7 linked regions of the Homo sapiens genome follow. The protein of the gene in region 5 purifies or fractionates together with the protein of the main gene of each other region. This does not show direct contact. Each region holds a gene or a part of one and is shown on either strand. Other genes may lie near its edges. The genes, in order: ERF, REC8, RRP1B, EFTUD2, XAB2, NPTN and SF3A1.

What was found.
Region 1: the proteins of XAB2 (region 5) and ERF purify together in Homo sapiens (co-immunoprecipitation; one large-scale study listed by IntAct). This does not show direct contact.
Region 2: the proteins of XAB2 (region 5) and REC8 purify together in Homo sapiens (affinity purification with mass spectrometry; one large-scale study listed by BioGRID and IntAct). This does not show direct contact.
Region 3: the proteins of XAB2 (region 5) and RRP1B purify together in Homo sapiens (co-immunoprecipitation; one large-scale study listed by IntAct). This does not show direct contact.
Region 4: the proteins of XAB2 (region 5) and EFTUD2 purify together in Homo sapiens (affinity purification with mass spectrometry; 2 studies listed by BioGRID and IntAct, with this or other methods). This does not show direct contact.
Region 6: the proteins of XAB2 (region 5) and NPTN purify together in Homo sapiens (co-immunoprecipitation; one large-scale study listed by IntAct). This does not show direct contact.
Region 7: the proteins of XAB2 (region 5) and SF3A1 fractionate together in Homo sapiens (co-fractionation; 3 studies listed by BioGRID and IntAct, with this or other methods). This does not show direct contact.

Annotation. Positions count from the first base shown.
Region 1 is NC_000019.10:42,249,599-42,252,128, forward strand, and holds part of ERF (ETS domain-containing transcription factor ERF), read right to left. Parts: intron 1,843-2,530; exon of another isoform or gene 1,791-1,842; intron 1,567-1,790; exon of another isoform or gene 1,348-1,566; intron 968-1,347; coding exon 733-967; intron 345-732; coding exon 229-344; intron 141-228; coding exon 1-140. UniProt on the Homo sapiens protein: Potent transcriptional repressor that binds to the H1 element of the Ets2 promoter. May regulate other genes involved in cellular proliferation.
Region 2 is NC_000014.9:24,177,917-24,180,754, forward strand, and holds the end of REC8 (meiotic recombination protein REC8 homolog), read left to right. Parts: coding exon of another isoform or gene 1-24; exon of another isoform or gene 25-174; coding exon 175-306; intron 307-689; coding exon 690-756; intron 757-860; coding exon 861-1,000; intron 1,001-1,168; coding exon 1,169-1,217; intron 1,218-1,480; coding exon 1,481-1,547; intron 1,548-1,678; coding exon 1,679-1,810; intron 1,811-1,883; coding exon 1,884-1,990; coding exon of another isoform or gene 1,991-2,093; coding exon 2,094-2,179; downstream 2,180-2,838. Other genes in the region: IPO4 (importin-4), read right to left, coding at 2,526-2,656, 2,773-2,838. UniProt on the Homo sapiens protein: Required during meiosis for separation of sister chromatids and homologous chromosomes.
Region 3 is NC_000021.9:43,687,060-43,690,559, forward strand, and holds part of RRP1B (ribosomal RNA processing protein 1 homolog B), read left to right. Parts: intron 1-456; coding exon 457-1,181; intron 1,182-3,228; coding exon 3,229-3,381; intron 3,382-3,500. UniProt on the Homo sapiens protein: Positively regulates DNA damage-induced apoptosis by acting as a transcriptional coactivator of proapoptotic target genes of the transcriptional activator E2F1.
Region 4 is NC_000017.11:44,849,448-44,851,946, reverse strand, and holds the end of EFTUD2 (116 kDa U5 small nuclear ribonucleoprotein component), read left to right. Parts: intron 1-129; coding exon 130-237; intron 238-577; coding exon 578-673; 3' UTR 674-1,550; coding exon of another isoform or gene 1,551-1,615; 3' UTR 1,616-1,999; downstream 2,000-2,499. Other genes in the region: HIGD1B (HIG1 domain family member 1B), read right to left, coding at 1,551-1,615. UniProt on the Homo sapiens protein: Required for pre-mRNA splicing as component of the spliceosome, including pre-catalytic, catalytic and post-catalytic spliceosomal complexes. Component of the U5 snRNP and the U4/U6-U5 tri-snRNP complex, a building block of the spliceosome.
Region 5 is NC_000019.10:7,623,046-7,626,545, reverse strand, and holds part of XAB2 (pre-mRNA-splicing factor SYF1), read left to right. Parts: intron 1-275; coding exon 276-410; intron 411-501; coding exon 502-666; intron 667-2,100; coding exon 2,101-2,245; intron 2,246-2,663; coding exon 2,664-2,815; intron 2,816-3,256; coding exon 3,257-3,376; intron 3,377-3,500. UniProt on the Homo sapiens protein: Involved in pre-mRNA splicing as component of the spliceosome. Involved in transcription-coupled repair (TCR), transcription and pre-mRNA splicing.
Region 6 is NC_000015.10:73,630,590-73,634,714, reverse strand, and holds the start of NPTN (neuroplastin isoform b precursor), read left to right. Parts: upstream 1-1,325; 5' UTR 1,326-1,499; coding exon 1,500-1,590; intron 1,591-4,125. UniProt on the Homo sapiens protein: Probable homophilic and heterophilic cell adhesion molecule involved in long term potentiation at hippocampal excitatory synapses through activation of p38MAPK. May also regulate neurite outgrowth by activating the FGFR1 signaling pathway.
Region 7 is NC_000022.11:30,339,895-30,343,394, reverse strand, and holds part of SF3A1 (splicing factor 3A subunit 1), read left to right. Parts: intron 1-515; coding exon 516-590; intron 591-1,044; coding exon 1,045-1,195; intron 1,196-1,509; coding exon 1,510-1,703; intron 1,704-2,582; coding exon 2,583-2,700; intron 2,701-3,013; coding exon 3,014-3,199; intron 3,200-3,500. UniProt on the Homo sapiens protein: Component of the 17S U2 SnRNP complex of the spliceosome, a large ribonucleoprotein complex that removes introns from transcribed pre-mRNAs.

The sequences.
Region 1 (2,530 bases), about 35 Mb from region 5:
GGAAGATGAAGATGAAGAGCAGGCTGGTGGTGAGCGGGGGTCCTCGGTGGGGGACAGCACCTCGGAGGGCGTTGAGGGAGGGAAGCGGAAGTGGCTACCACCCGACGGCACTGGCGGGGCACTCTGGGGCACTGCACCCCCTGGCAGAAGGGAGACAGTGTCAAGGCCCCTGGCCTAGCCTGAAGGGGCATGTAGACCCTCTCCACACCAACCATCCCTGGTACTCACCAGCCAACCCCACATCAATGAATGGGTAATTGACCAGCACCAGTTTGTTGAAATTGAACTTGTAGGTGAACCGTTTCCCCTTGGTCTTGTGCAGAATGCGCTTGTTATAGTAATAGCTGTGGGTACAGAAATGCCATTGGGAAGGTCAGGTACGTGGGACCCAGGTCTAGACTCCACACCTTAACACGCACTTAGGTGTGGTTCCCAAAGGCCAACTGAGGAACGTAGGCCACAAAAGACAAATCAAGTGCCCAGAGGGTGGGTACCAGCTCTCTCCTCACATCTAAGGCAGGACTAGAGGATCCACTGGTGACTGTAATCTCTCCTCAGGATACGTCTGTGTTACCAAGGGGCTCAGGGAAGGGCTGGGAGTGGCCCAAGGTCACACAGCTAGGATTTGGCAAAGCCAGGGGTCAGACCCAATGCTTGTTCCCACAGGCAAGGGGCTGTGCAACCCCGGGGGGGCACTCCACATGTGCTCAGGGGTCCCCAGCCCGTCCTCACCGCAGGGCCCGGCTCAGCTTGTCGTAATTCATCTGGGGCTTGCACTTGCGAACGCCCCACAGCCGGGCCACCTCATCAGGGTCTTTGATGACGAATTCCCCGTAGTCCCCCTGCCAGGCAATGACGCCCTGGTACTCCTCCTTCCGCAGCAGCTCCAGGATAAAGTGCCACAGCTGGATCTGCCTTGAGCCAGGGGACGACTCTGGCTTGTAGGCCCAATCCGGGAAGGCAAACCCTGGGGACGGGAGGCAGGGAGTGGCCTGGGGTCAGGCTGCCAAGTCCAGGGCTCTGGGTCCCATCCCAGGGTCCACCTCTGCCCTGCCTTCAACATGGGGAAATCTGTCTCACCTCAGCCAAGTCAAGATCTGATTTAAGAGAAGACAGTGCGTGTCTGTCTGTCTGCATGTGAGGGGCTAGACAGGAGCTGGGGGGGAGGGGAAGCTGGAGCCCGCTCCAGCGACACCGGGAGAAACAGGAAACCGTCGGCGGTGGGTCCCGGGGCCAGTGCCAGGGGGCCAGGCACCAAGCCAGGCTGGCGGGCAGGGCTGCCAGTGGGGGAGGGGCAGGAAGGGGCACACGTGGCCAGCCGGGTTGGGGTACAGCCCCCCAGCTTACCCCCACTCCCATTCAGAGCCAGTTGCACCACCCCAGCTCCTCGGATGTCCTCCTTAGAAACATGCACTGTCTCCTCCGAAGACCCAACAGAGCCCCTACTCCCAACCCCAAGACCTGAGAGGAAGATTTTTTTTTTTTTTCTTAAAAGGACCAGGAGGGGTGGGGTGACTCGGTTGCCGATGAGGTCAGCGCTTGCACACACAGAGGCTTCTGTCTTCCCTGGAGAGTGAAACCCAGACTGTCTGAGAGGCCCCCCAAGCCCTGGACCCTCTGAGCTACACTGCCCTCCCCAGACCCAGGCATCCAGGCCCCACCTGGCTGGAGGGCCCAGCCCAGGCCTGGAGCTTGAGCAGGCACCCTGGAGCTGTCACCCTCTTCCCACTTCTGCCTTCTCATCTTCAGCTCCTTCCCTGCCCACCTGCCTGCCCACCCCCAGCATTAACCTTGGGTAGAGGTTGGCGGTGGGCTGGCTGGTCTCTGGAGGGGGTGGGCAGCCTGGGGTGGGGGGTGGGGGGTGGGGGGACTGCGGTTGTTGTCATTTCCCAACAACAGGGGCCATCAATAATTCAGCACCAGGCAGCCGGTAATGGAGGGGTGGGAGGAGGGAAAGGGGAGGAAGGGAAGGAGTGGGGAGGCAGAGCAGGGTCCCTGGTGCCACTAGAGAGAGAAGGCCAAGGTGGCCAGCTAAAGATGGGCGGCTCCCAAATCCAGTCAGGCTGCAGGGGTCAATCCGCCTCCCTTGGCCCCAGCTCAAACAGGTACCAACAAGGCCTCCAGGCAACACATCCACCCTCAAAGACTCCACCCAAGTCTGGAATCCAACAAGGGATCCTTCCCCTTGGGAATCCAGGGAATCAGTAGTTCCTGCTCCCACAGGGACCACCCCCTCCAAATCCAGAGCTCACTGTAGGCCCCCAACTCCTGCCCAGACTGGGCTGCAGTACCACATAGCCCCCGGAGTCCCTGCCCCATTCAGATATATCCCAGCCTTCCACCAGCCCCTCAGGGTGCCAGGGATATGACCTCCAGCTGTTCACAGACCAGCACCAACAGCCCCTGTTCCATTTAAAAGTGACAGCCTTTGACAACCCCTTCCAGAGACCCCAGAGCACCATCGCTCTCTTGGGAATCTAGGTGTTCAACCCATTATCCTCACCCTTCTAGAGAATCCAGATCACAAGGT
Region 2 (2,838 bases), on a different chromosome or scaffold from region 5:
CCCAGATGGGTACCCTTATGCAAGGTATGAGCTGCTCAAGTGCATGGAGACCCCGCACAAGCCCTCTCCAGGTTCCTCTAGGGGCGGGTGTGGGGTCCTGTTAGCAGTCCACCAGAATGACAGGAAAAGGAGTAATGGGCAGCCTTGCCCCTACCTGCCCTCCCCACTCAACAGAGGAGGCCCCCAGTCCCCCCACCTCCTCGCCGCCGCCGTCGTCGCCGGTTACTGTTCTGGGACAAGGAGACTCAGATCTCCCCGGAGAAATTCCAGGAACAACTGCAAACCAGAGCCCACTGCTGGGAATGTGTGAGTGCAGCCCAGGCTTTGCCGGGGAAGGGAGGGAGGCAGGGATGACCAGGGGCACATGCAGGCTGAGCCTTCCAAACTCCTCAGGTGGGTGGGGGGAGGATTGGGAACTTGATGAAAAATCTCCTCCATTCTCCAGAAAATGCAGGCGATGTGGGTTTGCACATATACAACTCTTCATGCTCCTTTAGTGACCCACCTGTCATACCCATGGGCACCAGGTTAAAAAGTCCTTCTTTTAGCAATGAGCAGGGCAGGCAGGGTCATGAGCGCAAAAGCTGGGGAAGTCCAGAAGCCCCAGAACAGTGCATTGCAAAGAGGCAAAGGGGCCCTGAGGAGTGGCTGCTTTATAATGGGGCTTCTGACCTTCCCCCACTACACAGCCTATGGTGCAGCCGCCCGAGAGGACCATCAGAGGCCCTGCGGAGTTGTTCAGAACCCCAACTCTCTGTAAGAATGGTGGGGGTTGGGCACGAAGTATCCTCAAAACCAATTCCTCATTCCTGGTGCTCCTCACGCCTCAAACCCCGTGCCTACTACCCTCTTGTCCACAGCTGGCTGGCTACCCCCTGAACTACTGGGTCTCTGGACCCATTGTGCCCAGCCACCCCCAAAAGCCCTCAGGCGAGAGCTGCCTGAGGAGGCAGCCGCTGAGGAGGAAAGGAGAAAGATTGAAGTTCCAAGTGAGATTGAGGTAACTGCACCACCTGTTTACTGCATCGCCCCAGTGCCAGGGTCTGCCTGACCAGCTGGCTGCCCTCTCCTGCTATGAGAGCCAACAGCACAGGCTCACTGGCCTTGTGCCTTCTGAGGCCCAAGTCCCAGATGCTTGGGGTCTTAGTTCTACTTCTCCCATCCCCAGGTCCCGAGGGAGGCCCTGGAGCCCAGTGTTCCCCTTATGGTGTCTTTAGGTAAGCACCTAGAGAAGAGGCGCAGTGGGACCACACCCTAACCACTGTCCCAGGAAACTAGTATCCCAACTGCTGAAGCTGTTTTATGAGTGAAGGCGTGTGTGTGTGACATAAGGAAGCACGGACTGGTCCTCCTCAGCTCTCCCACCTATGTGCTTTTAACAAGTCACCGCACGGCTCTGCCATCTACTTACACCAGGTGGCCACAAGGCCCTAACTGCCACCCAAGCAGACACCCACTAGCGCCTTTCCTCCCCCAACAGAGATCTCCCTAGAGGCAGCTGAAGAGGAGAAGTCCCGCATCAGCCTCATCCCACCAGAAGAACGGTGGTAAGCGGCCAGGCTCCGTGGGAGCCAGGGCCCACAGCCCTTGGCCAGGTGGTGGAAACAGCTGCTGGGATGGGTATGCCCCTTGTCACTGTCACAGCTGCCACCTTCCCTACTCTCTCATGTCCTCCTAGGGCCTGGCCTGAGGTGGAGGCGCCAGAAGCTCCTGCATTGCCCGTGGTGCCTGAACTCCCTGAGGTGCCCATGGAGATGCCTTTGGTGCTGCCCCCAGAGCTCGAGCTGCTCTCACTGGAAGCAGTGCACAGGTACCAGGGAGGTGGCACCTTGATGGGGTGGACCCGGGCTGAAGCCTCTGCTAATGGTTCTTGATCCCTATAGGGCAGTGGCACTGGAGCTGCAGGCTAACAGGGAGCCCGACTTCAGCAGCCTGGTGTCACCTCTCAGCCCCCGCAGGATGGCTGCCCGGGTCTTCTACCTGCTCCTGGGTGAGTGTATGCATGTGTGTGTGTGTATGTGGGGCAGGGACACAGAGACCAGAGGCCCGTACAGGGACTCCCCCGACCTGCCCTCTCCTCGCCTCTTGACCAGTGCTCTCAGCGCAACAGATTCTTCACGTGAAACAAGAAAAGCCATATGGTCGCCTCCTGATCCAGCCGGGGCCCAGATTCCACTGAGGTTAGAGTCCATTTACAAAGCTGCCAGGAAACCGGCCACTTCTAGTAAACCACGTCGTGCCTCACTGGGTCCTGCTTACCTCATTTCTGAATGTGCATTTCCAGCCTTCTTGCTCTCAGAGCTATTGTTCAAGCAGAAAACAAGCTGCTTTTATTACAGTATGATGTCATGACTCATTTGTAACAGATCCAGCCTCAGGGACAGCCCTGTAAGGCAGCAAGTGGGGCTGGCTCCAAATGGGTATGAGTCTCAGAATCTTTGGTAAGGCAGAACTGAACTGGGCTGAGAGGTGGTCTTAAGGCCTGGGCAGGCTCTATTCTCTCTGGACTGGCTGCAGCCTGCAGTCTAGGAGAGGCCCAGTACAGCCTGGAGCTCCTGAGCCTTGTCAACAGGCAGTGAGCCCAGAGCTGCTTGAAAGCTGTCGGTGTGCTGTTTGGCCAGGAACGTCAGGAGCAGCAACAGTGCGGCCTTGGTGTCTGGGTGGAGAGGGAGGGAGAAAGGTCGGGGCTCCTAAAGCCTCGCTGCCCCAGGCTCTCTGAGCCCTGCCACTCCCAGCCTCCCGCAAGCCCCTGCCTATGACTCCTACCCTCACCTGGTGGGATCTTGTTGTCAGCCAGAATGAGGCTGCAGATACGCAGAAGCTCGGGAGCCACATCTA
Region 3 (3,500 bases), on a different chromosome or scaffold from region 5:
TTAATGGCTGAGAGGTAAAGGCGGTTTTCCAAGTGTTGTGCTGTTTTTGGTGGAGCCGCGTCCCCACCTCACCCCGCTCACGTCCGCCTGCTCTCCAGGGCACCTCTGCAGGGAAGCAGGAGCTGCAGGGAGCACTGGGGGGCGGCTGTTTGATGACCACTCGAGATCTATGGTTTTTACCCTTGAGCCCTAAAATTAGTGGAAATGGGACTATTTCAGTTCCATATGTGTTTATAAACGGACAGAAGGAAGGCTTCCAGTCACAGTTGGGGATGGAGGAAGTGGGACCAGACGACAAAGGTAGTGGGCGCACCAAGTACCTCAAGGGAGACAGGAACTTTCCTCGTGGTAGAATGTCAGGAAATTGCGTCCGCCAGTCATACTGTCTGAGAATCGCCAGCAGGACTCTGGCCCAGCTGGCACTGGGTGCTTGTTGATGGGTTTCTGTCTTTTTAGGAAGCAGAGTCTTTTGTGTAGAGGAAGAGGACAGTGAAAGCAGTCTTCAAAAGAGAAGAAGGAAGAAGAAGAAGAAGCACCACCTGCAGCCTGAAAATCCAGGCCCAGGGGGTGCAGCCCCATCCCTGGAACAGAACCGGGGCAGGGAGCCCGAGGCCTCTGGGCTGAAAGCCCTGAAGGCACGTGTGGCCGAGCCAGGTGCAGAGGCCACGTCCAGCACTGGGGAGGAGAGTGGCTCCGAGCATCCTCCAGCCGTCCCCATGCACAATAAAAGGAAACGGCCACGGAAGAAGAGCCCGAGGGCCCACAGGGAAATGTTGGAATCAGCAGTGTTGCCCCCAGAGGACATGTCTCAGAGTGGCCCGAGTGGCAGTCATCCTCAGGGACCTAGAGGGTCCCCGACAGGTGGAGCCCAACTCCTAAAAAGGAAGCGGAAACTTGGAGTTGTGCCCGTCAATGGCAGTGGCCTGTCCACGCCGGCCTGGCCTCCATTGCAGCAGGAAGGCCCTCCCACAGGCCCCGCAGAGGGGGCGAACAGCCACACCACGCTGCCCCAGCGCAGGAGGCTGCAGAAAAAGAAGGCAGGGCCCGGCAGCCTGGAGCTCTGTGGCCTGCCCAGCCAGAAAACAGCAAGTTTGAAAAAGAGGAAGAAAATGAGAGTGATGTCAAACTTGGTGGAGCACAACGGGGTGCTGGAGTCCGAAGCTGGGCAACCCCAGGCTCTGGTAAGGTGGGAGCACCCACAGGCCAGCTCGCCACAGAGGCACTCACTCGCGTCCATGGGGCTCCACTGCCTCCTGAGAGGAAGGGTGGGGGCTGGCGGCCAGGCCTCTGGACTCAGCAGCAGTTAGAATAGGGTGTGTTCATAACAGCCTTCACTAAGGAGGAAATCACAGGTGACCAGTACTTCGGTCCTCCTCATCGGCCACCTTCACTCCCTTAGGCCACATGCTTGGGTTCGGGAGGGCCCACTCCAAGCTGGGAAAGTTATCCCTTGGGCCAGGCACTCCTGCCCCAGGCGTGTTCAGGCCAGTCTAGGCCTCTGTCAAAGGCAGGTCTGGTTTTCTTCATCAGCGCATGGCCAGTCCAGGCCCCTTTGGCAAAAGAGGAAGCCCAAAATTCTCTTGCTTCACTCACCTTCTTTTCTATATTCTTTTCTTTTCTTAGCTTCCCCCCTACCCCCCAGCTCAAGAAACTTCACTAGCAGGACCACTTATCTTCTTAATGGAAAGACTTTCCTTCCACTTTGATTTCTAGAGCCAGATATAAATGAGGAACCAAGCTGTTGATCTGGTCTTGGGTCTGGCTGTGTCACCCAGGCTGGAGTGCGGTGGCACAATCTCGGCTCACTGCAACCTCCACCTCCCAGGTTCAAGCGATTCTTCTGCCTCTGCCTCCCAAGTAGCTGGAATTACAGATACACATCACCATGCCCAGCTAATTTTTGTTATTTTTGTAGAGACAGAGTTTTGCCTTGTTGCCCAGGCTGGGCTCAAGCAGTCCACCTGCCTCGGCCTCCCAAAGTGCGGGATTACAGGCGAGAGCCCCCGCGCCTGGCCCTGATCCGCTTTTCACACCACCTCTGGGCGCCCTGGGCTTCCAGGCCAGGGCCGGCAAACGTAGTGTCACTGCAACAGAGCCACATCCACTTGTATGTGCAGGTCTGTGGCCACTTTCATGCTGCAGCGGCAGAGGGGAGTGGTAGAGACAGAGACCTGCGGTCTGTAAAGCAGAAAATAACTCTGCCCTTCACAGAGTTTGCGCACCTTGGTCACCTCTTGGTTTGCACACACCGCTTTGCGGAGATTATGACATCTCTTGTTTAAGTGGACATGTGTGGACCTGGTGAAGCGCTGGTTTGGGGCTAAGAGTGTCTGCAAGTGGCTAGTGAGTGAGTTTATGGTCAGGAAAGCCTTACCCAGGGGCAGCAGTGCACTGAGCTGGACGGCAGGAGGCCCATTTCTAGCCTCGAGTCTCTCCTACCTCACAGTGCCGCCATCTCCTCCCTGGACTGCAGCCTGCCCCTCGTACCCTCAGCGCTGCTCCCTCACTAAGAGGGCCAGAGACATTGCCTTTCTTGCTGTCGTCTCAGGCCCCTGGCAGCCTATTGTAAAGAGGATGGGGTGTTGCTCAATAAGTCCCAGGGTCAAGGGAAGCTTTCCCCTGCCATCTGTCATGGCACAGGGAAGGCGCACAGGAGAAGCTCCTCGGGCTTCCCTGCCCTCCAGGCGGCACACTTGAACCTGCCGGAGCCACCCGTGTGTCGGCAGCGGCACTGGGCTGCCCACACCTCTGAGAGCCAAGTACGAGACCCGGTCTCTCTCTGGGTGGCTGTCAGTTGCTGCACACGCAATGAGTGTCCTGGGCCTGCCTGTGAGGGACCCACAGCCCCACATGGGCATCACTGTCCTCCACACCAGACTGCCAGCGCAGTGACGATTCAGCTACAAATGGGAGAGTCGATCTTATTAACAGATCGGCTTTGAAAGGCCAAAATCCCCATTTTGAAGATGAAGATAAAAGTGGGTCCTTACTCTGACGAGGCGTTTTCATCGCCCCTCTTGGCATGGTGCCATGATAGCGGTCGTGTTGTGCGTGAAGCCTGAGCTCTGCCGAATGGAAGGGCTGTCTGCAAGTGCGGTGCGGAAGACCGCGGGCCGTCGGGTGGGCTGGATCTGCCTGGGGCTCTGCCTTCCCCTCCTGTGTGTGTGGGCAGCACAGGAGGCTCTGTCGTCTGACCCCTCCTCCGCTTCTCACCCCTCGCTCACGTAGGGAAGCAGTGGGACTTGCAGTTCCCTGAAGAAGCAGAAGCTGAGGGCAGAGAGCGACTTTGTGAAGTTTGACACCCCCTTCTTACCAAAGCCCCTGTTCTTCAGAAGAGCCAAGAGCAGCACTGCCACCCACCCTCCAGGCCCTGCCGTCCAGGTACGCACCCTCCCCAGAGTGGCACAGCACATTTCACCACAAGGGCACAGATGGGCTTGAGCTGACAGTGCTTCCCATGCCGGGCCTGGAGCCCCACTGTGGCCCTCTGAGCCTGTCCA
Region 4 (2,499 bases), on a different chromosome or scaffold from region 5:
AAACTCCATCTCAAAAAAATAATAATAAGTAATAAATTTAGGAATAAAATAAATAAGAAGAGTCCTGCTTCTGGGCCTGAATCTTCTGGGAATTCTGCCTGGGCCATCTGAAATTCCTTTGCCTTTTAGATTGTGCCTGGTGATCCCCTGGACAAGAGCATTGTCATCCGCCCCTTGGAGCCACAGCCAGCTCCTCACCTGGCCCGGGAATTCATGATCAAAACCCGCCGTAGGAAGGTATGTCTCCCTTGGGCCTGTTGCCATCCCTCAACCCCCCAGGACTCTCAGAAGCAGGATCTCTCTCTCTTTCTTTTGGCCCCTTTTCCTAAGGGACACTTTTCCAATGTAGAGATATGATCTGTATACTCCTTAGGCAACCAAACCTGGGCCCCAGTCTCGTTGGGAAAGGAGAGCCTTATCCTCCCATGTGATAGTACCCTAAAGGCAGGGCTCCTGAAACACCACCACCTACATTCCAGCCACCACTAGCCTCCCCACTGAACACAGGTCTTGGATAGTCTCCTTGCTTAGTCTGCGACCACCTCGGGCTTTCTTATATTTGCCCCATTCCCTGCAGGGCCTCAGTGAAGATGTGAGCATCAGCAAATTCTTCGATGATCCTATGTTGCTGGAACTTGCCAAACAGGATGTTGTGCTCAATTACCCCATGTGAGTGCGTGGACTCCTGGGAGCTCCTGCTCCCTACAGTGGGCTGCAACTCCTGTACTTGAAGCTGAGACCTCATATGACGTGGCCTTCGTGTTGTCAGAGAGTGTCTGGAAGCTGCTGTTGCCATCTTGAACAACTCACCAACCTCCAACCCAGAGCCCCAGTGAGAGAGGAGCATTTGGCCTCCTGCTTCCTTCTGTGGCCTCTGCCGGGCTCCATTCCCAAGGAAAAGAGAGGAGCTTGGGCTCACAGAAAGAGAAGGGGATGAAACCCCAAGGGGCCCTATCTTTGGGATTTACATGGAATTTTATTTTCTACAAGTTTGACCTTAGCCATGGTTTGCAAGTGAACAGAACATTCTGACCTCTGTCTTGCTCTGCTCCTTTCATCCTCGTCTCCCCTGCCCCGTCTGGTGCTTACATTCTGAATATATGTCATCTCCCAAGAGGCTTCACTGCCTCTGCTTCCAGCTGCAGCCTCCTTCCTGCCTGGGTCCCCAGGGAAGCCGCCTGCCTTTTAATTCAGTGTTCCCATGAGCGCCAAGGCCCCATTATTGCCCCCTTGCTCCCACTCCATGCTGCTTCTGGGTGGAACCTAAGATGGCTTGGGAGTTGTTGGGTTCCTGCGATCAGAAGTCTACCCCACCACCTCCTCAGGAAACTGCTGCCTCCCCTAAGAATCTTCCTTGCCCTGGAGTAGGGGGCCAGAGCACTTTGATTTCCAGCCATTTACTCCAAGTCCTCTCCCCAGCTACCACCAGTCCCTTACTCTGTTCTCCCCCAGTGAAAAAGAGTCTGTTGATTTTCCTCAAAACTGCTTTATTAGGAATGTACCAGGGATTGAGTTAGGGGAGTTGGACAGCCCCGGCTCCTATAGGAGTCCTACTTCTCTCCAGCATCCTGTGCCATCCTCTTGACGTAATCGCTGTACATTGTGTACACAGCACCTGTGTGAGAGAAAAGAAATAATGCCCCTTGGCATCAAACCCTTCACCCGTCCTCTGGCTCTCAGGCGTCCTAGGGGTTCACCTCTAGCTGCTCCCTTGAGAGTCCAGCTTCCCGCTCATCTTTCTGCCCCAGGTCCCAACAGCTGCTTCAAGCATCTGACCACACAACCTGGGGAAACCACTTATCTGACAGTTCACGAAACACTTTCACATGTATTGTGTATCTGAGAAACCTCACAGCAGCCTGCAAGGTAGGCAGGCCAGGGGTGGTTATTGTCATGTTACACATCAGGAAACTGAGGCTCAGTGAGAAAGATTTGTCCACTGTCACACAGTTAGCAAGTGGCTGTCTGCTTTTTAATCTCAAGAGGAAGAGAAATTCAACATCTGTTCTGTTGCATGATTTTTCTCACCCCTAGGGCAAACTGTCATGAGACACTGTCCCCACAGGCCTGGGACAGGAGCCTAAACAGGGAAGATGGCTCAGTATAGGGGCTTCACCAAGCATGTGATGTGGAGCCCAGAACAGGAGAACTTAATTCACAGTCCTTTTTTTTTTTTTTTTTTTTTTTTGAGACAGAGTCTCACTCTGTCACCCGGGCTGGAGTGCAGTGGCGGATCTCAGCCCACTGTAGCCTCCGCCTCCCAGGTTCAAGCAATTCTCCTGCCGAAGCCTCCAGAGTAGCTGGGACTAAAGGCACCTGCCGCCACGCCCAGCTAATTTTTGTATTTTTAGTAGATATGGGGTTTCACCATGTTGGCCAGGATGGTCTCTCTCTCCAGACCTCATGATCTGCCCGCCTTGGCCTCCCAAAGTGTTGAGATTACAGGCGTGAACCACCGCGCCCAGCCAAGCACAGTCCTTTTAATTGTTGGGACTTAAA
Region 5 (3,500 bases):
AACCCAAAAAGTCCACAGCTGGTCTAGTCAGGACTGAGGCTGGACCAGTGGAGCCAAGGCAGGACCCACAGGGGGTTGAGCCTAACCCAGTGGGGCCAAGGCTAGACCAGTAGGAACCGGGCTGGACCAGTGGGGCTGAGGCTGGTTTGACAGGGCTTGCTTTTGCCCAAGACACTCATAAATGGGTGGGGGGGGACGCCCCGAAGCCACTGAATCGGGAGGTGGGCGTAGCCCTGCCACCCCACTGACTGCCTGAGGGGTGGCTCGGTCCCCAGCTGAGTCCTGAGAGTGCAGAGGAGTACATTGAGTACCTCAAGTCAAGTGACCGGCTGGATGAGGCCGCCCAGCGCCTGGCCACCGTGGTGAACGACGAGCGTTTCGTGTCTAAGGCCGGCAAGTCCAACTACCAGGTGGGCCTGCCGGGAGCCGGCAACTGGGTGGGAGGGCCACCCCCTCCATGACTGAGCCTGAGACTCTCCCCCACTGCCCCATGCCCTGCAGCTGTGGCACGAGCTGTGCGACCTCATCTCCCAGAATCCGGACAAGGTACAGTCCCTCAATGTGGACGCCATCATCCGCGGGGGCCTCACCCGCTTCACCGACCAGCTGGGCAAGCTCTGGTGTTCTCTCGCCGACTACTACATCCGCAGCGGCCATTTCGAGAAGGTGCATGCTGGCACACGGGGCTCTGGGTTCGGGGCGGGGTCTCCCTCCGACACTCGGGGACACATGTTGACACATGCACAGGCAGAAAACATGCCATTTATGGCTGGGTGTGGTGGCTCACACCTGTCATCCCAGCACTTTGGGAGGCCGAGGCGGTAGGATCACTTGAGGTCAGCAGTTCAAGACCAGCCTGGCCAACATGGTGAAACCCCATCACTACTAAAAATACAAAAATTAGTCAGACATGGTGGTGCGCGCCTGTAATCCCAGCTACTCGGGAGGCTGAGGCAGGAGAATCGCTTGAACTTGGGAGGTGGAGGTTGCCGTGAGCTGCGATCGCGCCACGGAAGTCCAGCCTGGGTGGCAGAGCGAGACTCCATCTCAAAAAAAAAAAAAAAAAAAAAAAGTGCCATTTTTGACAGACATGCATATCCCTGCACACGATTACTATCCTGCTGAGGGTGGGGGAGCACTCCTGCCCGCAGGCACGTCAGCCTTGGAGTCAGCCACATTTGCGTTCAGGGTTCACCCTCTGGCTCTGCGGCCTTGGCCCCACTAAGGTGGGGTGTCTTCATTTGTAAAATCAGGGTGACAGTTACTGCCTGTCACCAATCAGCTCAGTGACGCAGGCACAGCACTGAGGAGGTACGTGGTGTGAGGGCCACTCCCTCAGGGGTTAGCTGACTGTGGCTCTTGGCAGGCAGTGGAGTGGCAAGCTCAGGGGATGGCCTGGGGGCAGGTGGGTGCAGAGGGGGCCAGAGCCGAGAGCGGGGAGGCTCAGGAACCCAGGGAAGATAGGTTGGGAGCCTCGAAAGCCAAACGGGCTGGCCATGCTCCTGGCTGGGGGAGCCGCCAGTGGGGTGTGGGCGGTATGCGCTTCGCAGCGCCCCTTCCAGGGGCACGTGTAGGCCAAGGCTGTCGGAGGCAGCAGGGCAAGACCCGTCAGGGCTGGGTAGAGAGAGGGGACCTGAGCTGGGGTGGGCGAGCCAGGTGGAGGACAGGCGGGCTGGGGAAGAGGGTCAGGCAAGCGAGAGGGACGCTTTGGAGCAAATTCTGAGGCCTCGGAGGATGAGCTGAGGCGAGGGTCCCTGCAGGGTGGACCCATAGGCGCTGGGGGGTTTTTGGCCACCTATTGGGTGCCAAGTGCTTCACACATGTGTCTCAGTCGAGCCCTGAGGTCACTGTGTGCAAAGGGCAGTCACCCAGTTTACTGAGGAGGTCCTGAAGCTCCCAAGACCACCCTGGCAGTGCAGGGCAGGGCGGGGGTGAGAAGGCTCCACGGAGGCTCTGTCCTGGGGTCACTACCCAGAGGTGCTGGATGCGTCACTACCCAGAAGGCCCCCAGGGGTTCCACATTGAGGCTGGTGCTAAGAGTGCTGCTGCCTGTCCCCTGCGCCACTTTCCTCTCACCTCCCCTTCCCTGGGTCCCCACAGGCTCGGGACGTGTACGAGGAGGCCATCCGGACAGTGATGACCGTGCGGGACTTCACACAGGTGTTTGACAGCTACGCCCAGTTCGAGGAGAGCATGATCGCTGCAAAGATGGAGACCGCCTCGGAGCTGGGGCGCGAGGAGGAGGGTGAGCCTCTGGGGGCCCCGGCTGGTGGGGAGAGAGCTGAGTGGACATTAGCGGTAGGGGCGGGACACATCTCAGGTGAGGCAGCCCTGGGAGGCTCAGCTGGGGGCCAGCAGGGAAGGAGGCTGAGTGGATGCAGGGGGTGTGGGGGTCTTGAAGGAGCCAGGAATGGGGACACTTCTCAGGCCTGGGCCAGAGCCTGGCAGGGCAGGAGGGCTAGGGGAACAGTGGGGGTAGGAGGGGGTATCCACAGTACCTGGGGCTGGGGGTGGGGCTCAGGTGGACACCCGAGCTGAGTGTCTAGGGCCCAGAGCACTTGGCTGGGGGCTGGAGCGGAGTGAGGGTGGGGAGTGGAGGCGGTGGCATCCGGGGACCTGCATCCTGGGTCTCCGCCCCTGACAAACATGTTCGCGGCTCCCAGATGATGTGGACCTGGAGCTGCGCCTGGCCCGCTTCGAGCAGCTCATCAGCCGGCGGCCCCTGCTCCTCAACAGCGTCTTGCTGCGCCAAAACCCACACCACGTGCACGAGTGGCACAAGCGTGTCGCCCTGCACCAGGGCCGCCCCCGGGAGGTACATGAAGCCTGCCCCAGTCCTACCCCTGAGGGCCAGTTTCCTGCAGAACTGGGGAGCCACCCACCTTCACCCATAATGTCACCTTCTAGGGGCCTGACTTTGCTTAGTAGGTCCAATTCCACCCCTGTTCTTGGGGTTCTCCTCCTGCCCGAGCCCCGCCCCTCAGAGCCACAGTCCCTCCTGGCCCCACCCCTTGGAGGGCCACAGCTCCCTCGTGGCCCCGCCCCTTGGAGGGTCACAGCTCTCTCCTGGCCCCGCCCCTTAGGGCCACAGCTCTCTCTTGGTCCTGACCATTGTCAAGGGCCATAGTTCGTTTCTGGCCTCTCCCGACAGGGGCCACAGCACCCTCCAGGCCCCACCCCTCAGAGCCACAGCTCTGCCCCGACCGTCATCTGCAGGGTCCTGAGTCCTATATGACCTCCTCCCTCCTGTCCCCAGATCATCAACACCTACACAGAGGCTGTGCAGACGGTGGACCCCTTCAAGGCCACAGGCAAGCCCCACACTCTGTGGGTGGCGTTTGCCAAGTTTTATGAGGACAACGGACAGCTGGACGATGTGAGCACCCTGTTGCGTGTGCCTGTGTGTTCATGCATGTGTGTGTGCTTGTATATGTGTGCATGTATGTGTGTGTACATATTTGTGCATGGATGTGTGCACGTGTGTGTGCATGTGCATTTGG
Region 6 (4,125 bases), on a different chromosome or scaffold from region 5:
TCCAGATGAAGGTACATGCCAATCTTTTTGTCACTCACACACCTGAGGTTTTGAAGGACATAGTTTTCACTTCAATCAACAACATGCCATAGTGGTCCTGGCCTTTGCTAGAAATTTTGGTCTGGAACCACCAGCTGTTCAGTTCCTGTTGAAAGTTCCAGACCACTTTAGCTTGATAGAGATTGCGAGGGTCTCCTTCTTCCAGGTCCTCCAAACCCTCTCTTTAAATCAAGTCAGGCCACCAGGACTGTTTACTTGGCCCCTCAGAGTTTCCACAGACACTCCCAGGACGTCTGCTGTGAGTCAGGGATGAGCTAAGCCATAGAAATTCCTTTGCCAACCACAAGCCCTGAGGGTAGTACAAAAAATACCCCTAAAAAGAGCATTTCCCAAACTTCTATGCAAACAGTAGTAACCACACTGCCAATCACCCTCCAGAGTGCTTTGCTAGATCCTTTCCTATGGGGCCATTTGACCCTTCCTCACTCCTCTGCTAGCCTAGGCAGTGCACTCCATGAGGACGGGGACTACCTTTTCATGTGGGTTTCACTATGTGCCTGGCACACAGCACGTTCTCAATAAATGTTTTCCGCATTAAGACGCTTCTTAGGAGTCTTCATGTAAGTTCATACACGACTTCCTTGTAGAATTGTGTCAATGAACATGCAATTAGGCTAGCTGAACTTCAGGCCCTGAGAGTCTATGAAGCTAAAATAAGGCCCAGATGTGGGGTGGGAGGGGGAGTAGGCAGAGGCGGCAAAGGAGGACATTTCAGGCAAAGGGAGCAGATGTCCAGGCAGGAAAGCACAAGGTAACGGGGGCACAGGGGGCGCACCACTTTTCCTGGAAGGAAAAAACAGCAGATGAGAGAAGGAGGTTGGAGCCAGTTACCAGTAGAGGTCTATGTTCAAAGTCCAGAAGGAAGAAACAGCAGGACGGGGACAAAGAGAGGAAGGAGGAAAGGAGGCACGGTGTATGAAACTCTGTAGCCAAGAGCGCTAACAAATGAAAGGCAGGATGGGTGGAGGAAATGTACTGTGTTCCAAAGCTTCCTCTTATTTATGGGTGCTCCCGGGCCACAGAGGAGTAAACTGAAGGACTTCCCAGCTCCCCACTGCCCAGAGAGCTAGCGGAGTCCCGCCTCGCCCCGTCACATGGCCAGAGGCGCCCTCGGCACGTGACCTACCTCGCGCTAGGCCAATCAGCCTCTGCAGGGGCGGGGCCACCGAGTCCGCGGGGCGGGAGTCTCCGTCGGAGCCGCCTCTTCTCGCGATCCTTGCGGCGGTCGCTCCTCAGCCGCCCACGACCCGGAGCGAAGGTCTCGCGAGGCCTGGGCGCTGCGGCGGCAGGAGGAGGACGGGGAAGGACGGAGCCGAGCCGCGGCTGCCTCCCTCGCTCACTCCCTCGCGCACTCGCCCGCCCCCTCCCTCCCTCCCCTCCCTTCCCCGGCCCCGGCTCTGGCCCCGGCCCATTCGCTGTTGGGTCTTCTGCTAGGGAGGATGTCGGGTTCGTCGCTGCCCAGCGCCCTGGCCCTCTCGCTGTTGCTGGTCTCTGGCTCCCTCCTCCCAGGGCCAGGCGCCGCTCAGAACGGTAAGCGGGGCGCCGGGGGCGGGCCGGGCGGGGGTTGAGGGGCGCCGGGGCCGGAGGGGGCCCGGCTCTGGCCTGAGGAGACGCTGGAGCTCGGGGAAGGGGGCCGAGTGGGCGTCTGAGGGGCTGCGGGTCCGAGAGGAGGTACCGGCTGCGGGTTTGAGGAGGCGCGGGTGTGAGGACCGGAGGCTCCTATCCGAGCGGCGGGGGCGTCCGGGGTGAGCCCGAGGTGTTGCCCACTCGGAGGCTCCACGTCGTGGGGCTCGTCGTGCCGGGTCGGCGAGGGGACACGGAGGAAGCCGACGTGGGGAGCTGGAGTAGCGGGGGCGGATGAGGAGGGGGCGCAGCTCTTAGGGAGGGTGGCACAAGACCGGCGTTTGTGTTCCGGGCGACGGGGATGGTGGTGTCCGTCAGGCCCCCCGGGAGCTGGGGTCGTCCAGGATTCTACTGAGGCCCCGTAGGACTGGTGACATCCTTAAAAATAAGGGGGAAATTGGGGGGAAGAGAGTCCTGAGGAACACTAATGGTGAGCTGAGTACTAGAGACCAAAGGAGGGGGTAAAGAATCAGGGAACCTTGGATCTAGGGATAGAGGGAAGGTGGGTGGGAAGATGAGGGAGTGGGTTGACTGCAGTAGGGGACCTGGAGAGAGAAGCAGCAGTGTCTCCAAATGAGCTGGGGGAAGAGGGCTGGGTTTGCTAAAGAGGGTGGAGTGCTGGGCATTCTAGGGTAGTGGTTGGGAGAGCAAAAAGGAGTTTCTAAATAAGGAGAGGAAAATGAGCAGAGGATGGAGGGAAAGGGTTGGAACTGAGGTGGGGGAATATTTATTAGAGAAGTAAGGAGGCCTGGGTATAGAGATGGGGGTGGGGGAAGACGAAAAATAAGGGAAGGGAGTAAAATGCAGGAAGTCGGGGGTGTAATGTTGGTTTGCAGTGTGGAGGATAAATTAGGGAAGGGAGGAGTTGGGATGTGGCAAATGCTGTATGATATTGGTCGGGCCTTTGGGAAAACAGGGACACATAGCTGCAACTAATTGCAGTGGTGGGATTGAGGGCAGTGACTGGCGACAGGGAGATGGGGAAGTGGATTTTTGAGATTTAAAAGTTTCAAGACAGAAGAGACGTTATTTCCGAGGAACATGAAAGTGGCCCCTGGGAGGTGGTACAGTAGAAAGCAGAGAATTACTGGGTTTTGAATTGAAGCTCCTTTGAGAAGATGGAGAAGTGGTGGGGAATCATGGGCATAGGGACCTAAACAGAGCAGATTCTGATTGAAGACATGTGTTAGCATTCAGCTGCTGAATTGATCTTTCACAAGTGAGTCTAGGATTGTGAACCTGTTTCTGCCCTTGTGGAAACAGCCATTAAGAGGTTAAAGAATATTTTTTCTGTGAAGGAATTTATGAGAAGTCAGTACTGGAGAGTGAACTATAAATTATTTTTGCTAATCTTTCATTGTTTATTGTTAGGCCAGAACAATTTATGATTACTCTTATTAGAGAGGCTGCAATTTAAATTTTAAAAAATCAGTGATAGAGCCAGTGGAGTTTTTTGAGAAACTGGGTTTAAAATGCTGAATGTTAGAGTTTGTTTCATTATTCCTAAAACGAATAAAGGATTGACAATATCCATCAGTTAAATATGTGTTCGTAGTACCAAATTTTATGTGTGCTTCATGGCCTTGGATATCACTGCAGGGGTCAGGAAGGAAACATTTTTTCTGTCTCTAGCATTGAATATGCTAAGTGTATTGGGTATTTTTCCTGTTTTCCTCTAAGCATGAGTCCACTGTGGAAGGCAGGGTAGAGTTAGTCTTATTTGTCTTATCAGTTTTTCGACTGTGTCAACATGACTTAAAGAAGCCTAATGCTAATTTTAGCTATTCAGTTTATGGTAATAGCATAGTTTCATTTTGCACAATAGGTGAGAGATTCTTGATCTTAACATGTTTAATCTCTGCTGGCTTAGCTTTTTTCCAATGATTTATAATACGGTAAAATTGTAGTTTCTTAGCAACTAAAGCAAGGTTTCTGGATAGGCCTATAAAGACTCATCTGTCTGCTCAGTGATATGTGTTCTAAATACAGCATAGAACGGCCTTTCCCTTGAAATGAGCTTGAATTCAGTCACATGACATGACCGATGAAATGAAGCTGAGCTGCTGGTTGACCCAAATGAATGTAAATTTAATTCAAGGAAGAGATGGCTATTTTTGAGTTTGAGTTCCTATAGTTATGGATGCCATTTTATAGCTTTCTATATAACATGTCTTATTATAATATTCAAGCTTTCAGCTGGTAATAAATAGCCCTGCAGTGATCTGACTTCATGTCATGGAGTTTGTGTTTTCTTACAGTGCTTTCAAAAAGGGATACCTTGCTTGTGCATGATGTTGAAATGTTAGAAATGTTAGATTTTCTATTTAAATGACTGGAGAAAAAAACTCACAAGTATCTCTGAATTGGGAATGTAGTAGTTTAGATTGAATATAGATGTTTTTCAAAAGGCATTTGTTTCATTATTCCTAAAATGAAGAATTT
Region 7 (3,500 bases), on a different chromosome or scaffold from region 5:
CCTGTCTTCATGGAGTTTCTAGTCTAGTGAGGAGGAGTCAAGTGCATTGTCAGTGTCTGTTACATGGTGCTAAATACTACAGAGAGAAAGCAGGGAGCAGAAATAGAGGGAGGTGGGGCAAGTACGCTGCGGTTCTGAATAGGATAGTCAGGGGGGACCTGCGTAGTGTTTTTGAAAGGATGAGAGCAGGTCAGTGTCATGAAAGCAGCCGTCTCATACTGACCGTGTTCTGGGTAATCGGCTAGTGCTTTGCATGCTTTCCTGCTAATCCTCGAAGCCACCTTTTTAAGTTCATGGTGCCAACTTTGAGTGGTGGTGCCATTATTTTGGAGAAGGAAATCAAGTTACTGAGGTTAAGTAACTTGCCCTAAGTCCCACAGCCAAGTGGAGCTGGGATTGGGACACAGAATCCCATGCTTCCTCATCTCCTGTGCTTTATCACAGGCCCAGGAAGGCTGCCTCTTTGTACTGCGTTGTAAAGCACTGACAGTTGCTTTAACTCTTCTGTATTTCAGATCTTGATTCCACCCAAAGGTTTATTTTCAAAGCTCAAGAAAGAGGCTGAAAACCCCCGAGAAGTTTTGGATCAGGTAAACTGAATAGCATTTCTTGCAACCAGTTACTGGTGGTTGGTTCTGTTTTATGTCTGAAAACAGTCTCTGAGGCAGGACCTTGTTATGTTCCAGTCATGGGAATGGTGGGAGAAAAGGCTTTGTTGGCTACAAAGGCCAAAGAAACCTGGAGTCCGGATGCTTCCCAACATACCACAACTTTCTGCTTTGCTCTCAGCCTCAATATATCTCCCTCTTTTCCACTCTAGCTAGAAGACAGAAGGCCAGCTCCCAAGCAGATCAGAGGGTGGAATTTTCATTCTGTCCCAACTCTGCACCTGGGTGGAACCAGGTGCAAATGCCATAGTTTGGAACCATACTTCCATTCTGTTCCGAAGGAGGCGCTGACTTTGATGAAAGCCCTGGAGGTGGTAGCCTCATCAGGAGCAGACCCTGCTTCAGCGTAGCACCAAGCTGTTTCCCATCTCTGCAGGTGTGTTACCGAGTGGAATGGGCCAAATTCCAGGAACGTGAGAGGAAGAAGGAAGAAGAGGAGAAGGAGAAGGAGCGGGTGGCCTATGCTCAGATCGACTGGCATGATTTTGTGGTGGTGGAAACAGTGGACTTCCAACCCAATGAGCAAGGTAGGTCTGTGAGGAGTGACTCCAGATGGGGAGCCAGGAACTCAGACTTCCCGGGAAACCTGGTGCAGGTGTTCCCAGAGAGCAGTAGAATCTCTCAGAGGGCTTTATCAGTGCTGTCTCCTCCCTGCTCCCAAAAGACTTCAGTTCTACCACTTTGCCCAACTTAGATTCAATACGTACTTGCCAGACCCTAGATGGGCCTCTGGAGATAGCTGGAGAGAAAACAGACATGGCCCCAGCCCTTGGGGAGCTCAGACAGGGCAAATAGGTGGGTCTTTGATAAGGAATACCTTTGCCTCTGGCTCACCCTCTAGGGAACTTCCCTCCCCCCACCACGCCAGAGGAGCTGGGGGCCCGAATCCTCATTCAGGAGCGCTATGAAAAGTTTGGGGAGAGTGAGGAAGTTGAGATGGAGGTCGAGTCTGATGAGGAGGATGACAAACAGGAGAAGGCGGAGGAGCCTCCTTCCCAGCTGGACCAGGACACCCAAGTACAAGATATGGATGAGGTAAGCTGCTGGGCAGGCCTGCAGGATGACCTTTTCCCCTGAAGCCCCAGGAGGTCGAAGTGCTCTCCACCAGTCAGATCCAGCTCCCCTGTGAGCCTTGAAAGGAGGCGTGGGTCCTGAACAAGGCCATACAGCTGCCCAAGTCCAGGCAGCACAGAGCCTCTTTCCAGCTCCGGCAACAAAGATTCATTCATAGGCAAGGATCTAAAAGCTGTGCTGACCTGTTCTGTGGCCGCCTCCCTGGCCCGGACAGCCTGCTCTCACTGCCTCGTGCCAGCCCTCAGGGAACTCACTGCATTACCCTGTTCTGTTTTGAGCTCTCAGCTGGGCTCCAAGCTCCCAGAGCTTTTCTAAATGTAGCCCACGCTTCCTTTCAGGCATCCCTACCCCCTTCAAGCCAGGCCCTCTAAGCAGGCATGGAGTCTCCAGAACCAGACTGTTCTCCCCCACTCGGAAATAATTTGTGCACAGCCTGAGAAGAAAGGGCCCCTGTCTGTGGGAAATGACTTTTTCTCTCCCTCCCAGCATTGCTGTGTGAGCAGCTACCATTGATTGGCGACTCGCCGCCCCCACCCCTCGCCCCCTTGGCACTGTCCCCCCCCGGCATGTTAAGTGCCCTTGGCCTCTTGGGACTGCCTGGTGCCAGCTGCTGGAAATGCCTGGGAGGAGTGCTAGGACCGTGGCCTCAGCACTCCCATTCATGCTGTGAGGAAGCAGCTTGGCCTGCTGCCGGCTGGCCTCAGCTGCCCTGGGAGGCTTAGCACATGGACGCTGGCTGGCAGAGGCCAAGGCTCCTTGCCACCCAGAGACCTGCCAGGCTCAGCTACAGGGAGGTGGCCTCAGCCCCTCTCTGAGTCCTGCCATTGCTTTGCTTTTCAGGGTTCAGATGATGAAGAAGAAGGGCAGAAAGTGCCCCCACCCCCAGAGACACCCATGCCTCCACCTCTGCCCCCAACTCCAGACCAAGTCATTGTCCGCAAGGATTATGATCCCAAAGGTAGGGAGGGCCTGCTTCCCAACCCTCGGGCTGCCCAGGAAGTCCTGTGTGCCCTCATGTGTTCCTCACACCCGTCTTTCTAGGAGGGCTTGAGGTGCAGCTTATTGTAAAAGCATTGCAAGCCCGTCTGTTACAGGTTTCATGGTGGGAACAGGGCCCAGTCATCTCTGGTGCCCTAGTGCCTTTCACAGTGCCAGGTACAAGAGTGGCACTGAATAGATGCCTTGATGAATGATGCACGCATGAAATACCACCCTCTTAACTCAGGTGGCTGCCCACCAGTGTTCTTACTGAAACATCTGTTTCCTTTTAGCCTCCAAGCCCTTGCCTCCAGCCCCTGCTCCAGATGAGTATCTTGTGTCCCCCATTACTGGGGAGAAGATCCCCGCCAGCAAAATGCAGGAACACATGCGCATTGGACTTCTTGACCCTCGCTGGCTGGAGCAGCGGGATCGCTCCATCCGTGAGAAGCAGAGCGATGATGAGGTGTACGCACCAGGTGAGGTGGGGGTTCCAGGAGAGCCCATGGTAGTCTCCGAATTACAGCCATCTTCTTCTAAGCAAACATAGAAAGCAACAATTGAGGTCAACAAAAGCTTTTGAGGAGAGTTGCACTCTATGATATTGCAAGAGAACTCCCCACTTTCCAGAAGAACTCCCCATAGAAATTCCCCAAAGGCAGACACTGAAGGAGATGCCATGTGCCTGTTGACATCCCAGAGCAAGCTCTGGCTTTAGCTGGAAGGGCTTCCTGTGGCTGTTTAGAAGGAGAGCATTGATGGCTGGAGTACCATGAGCTC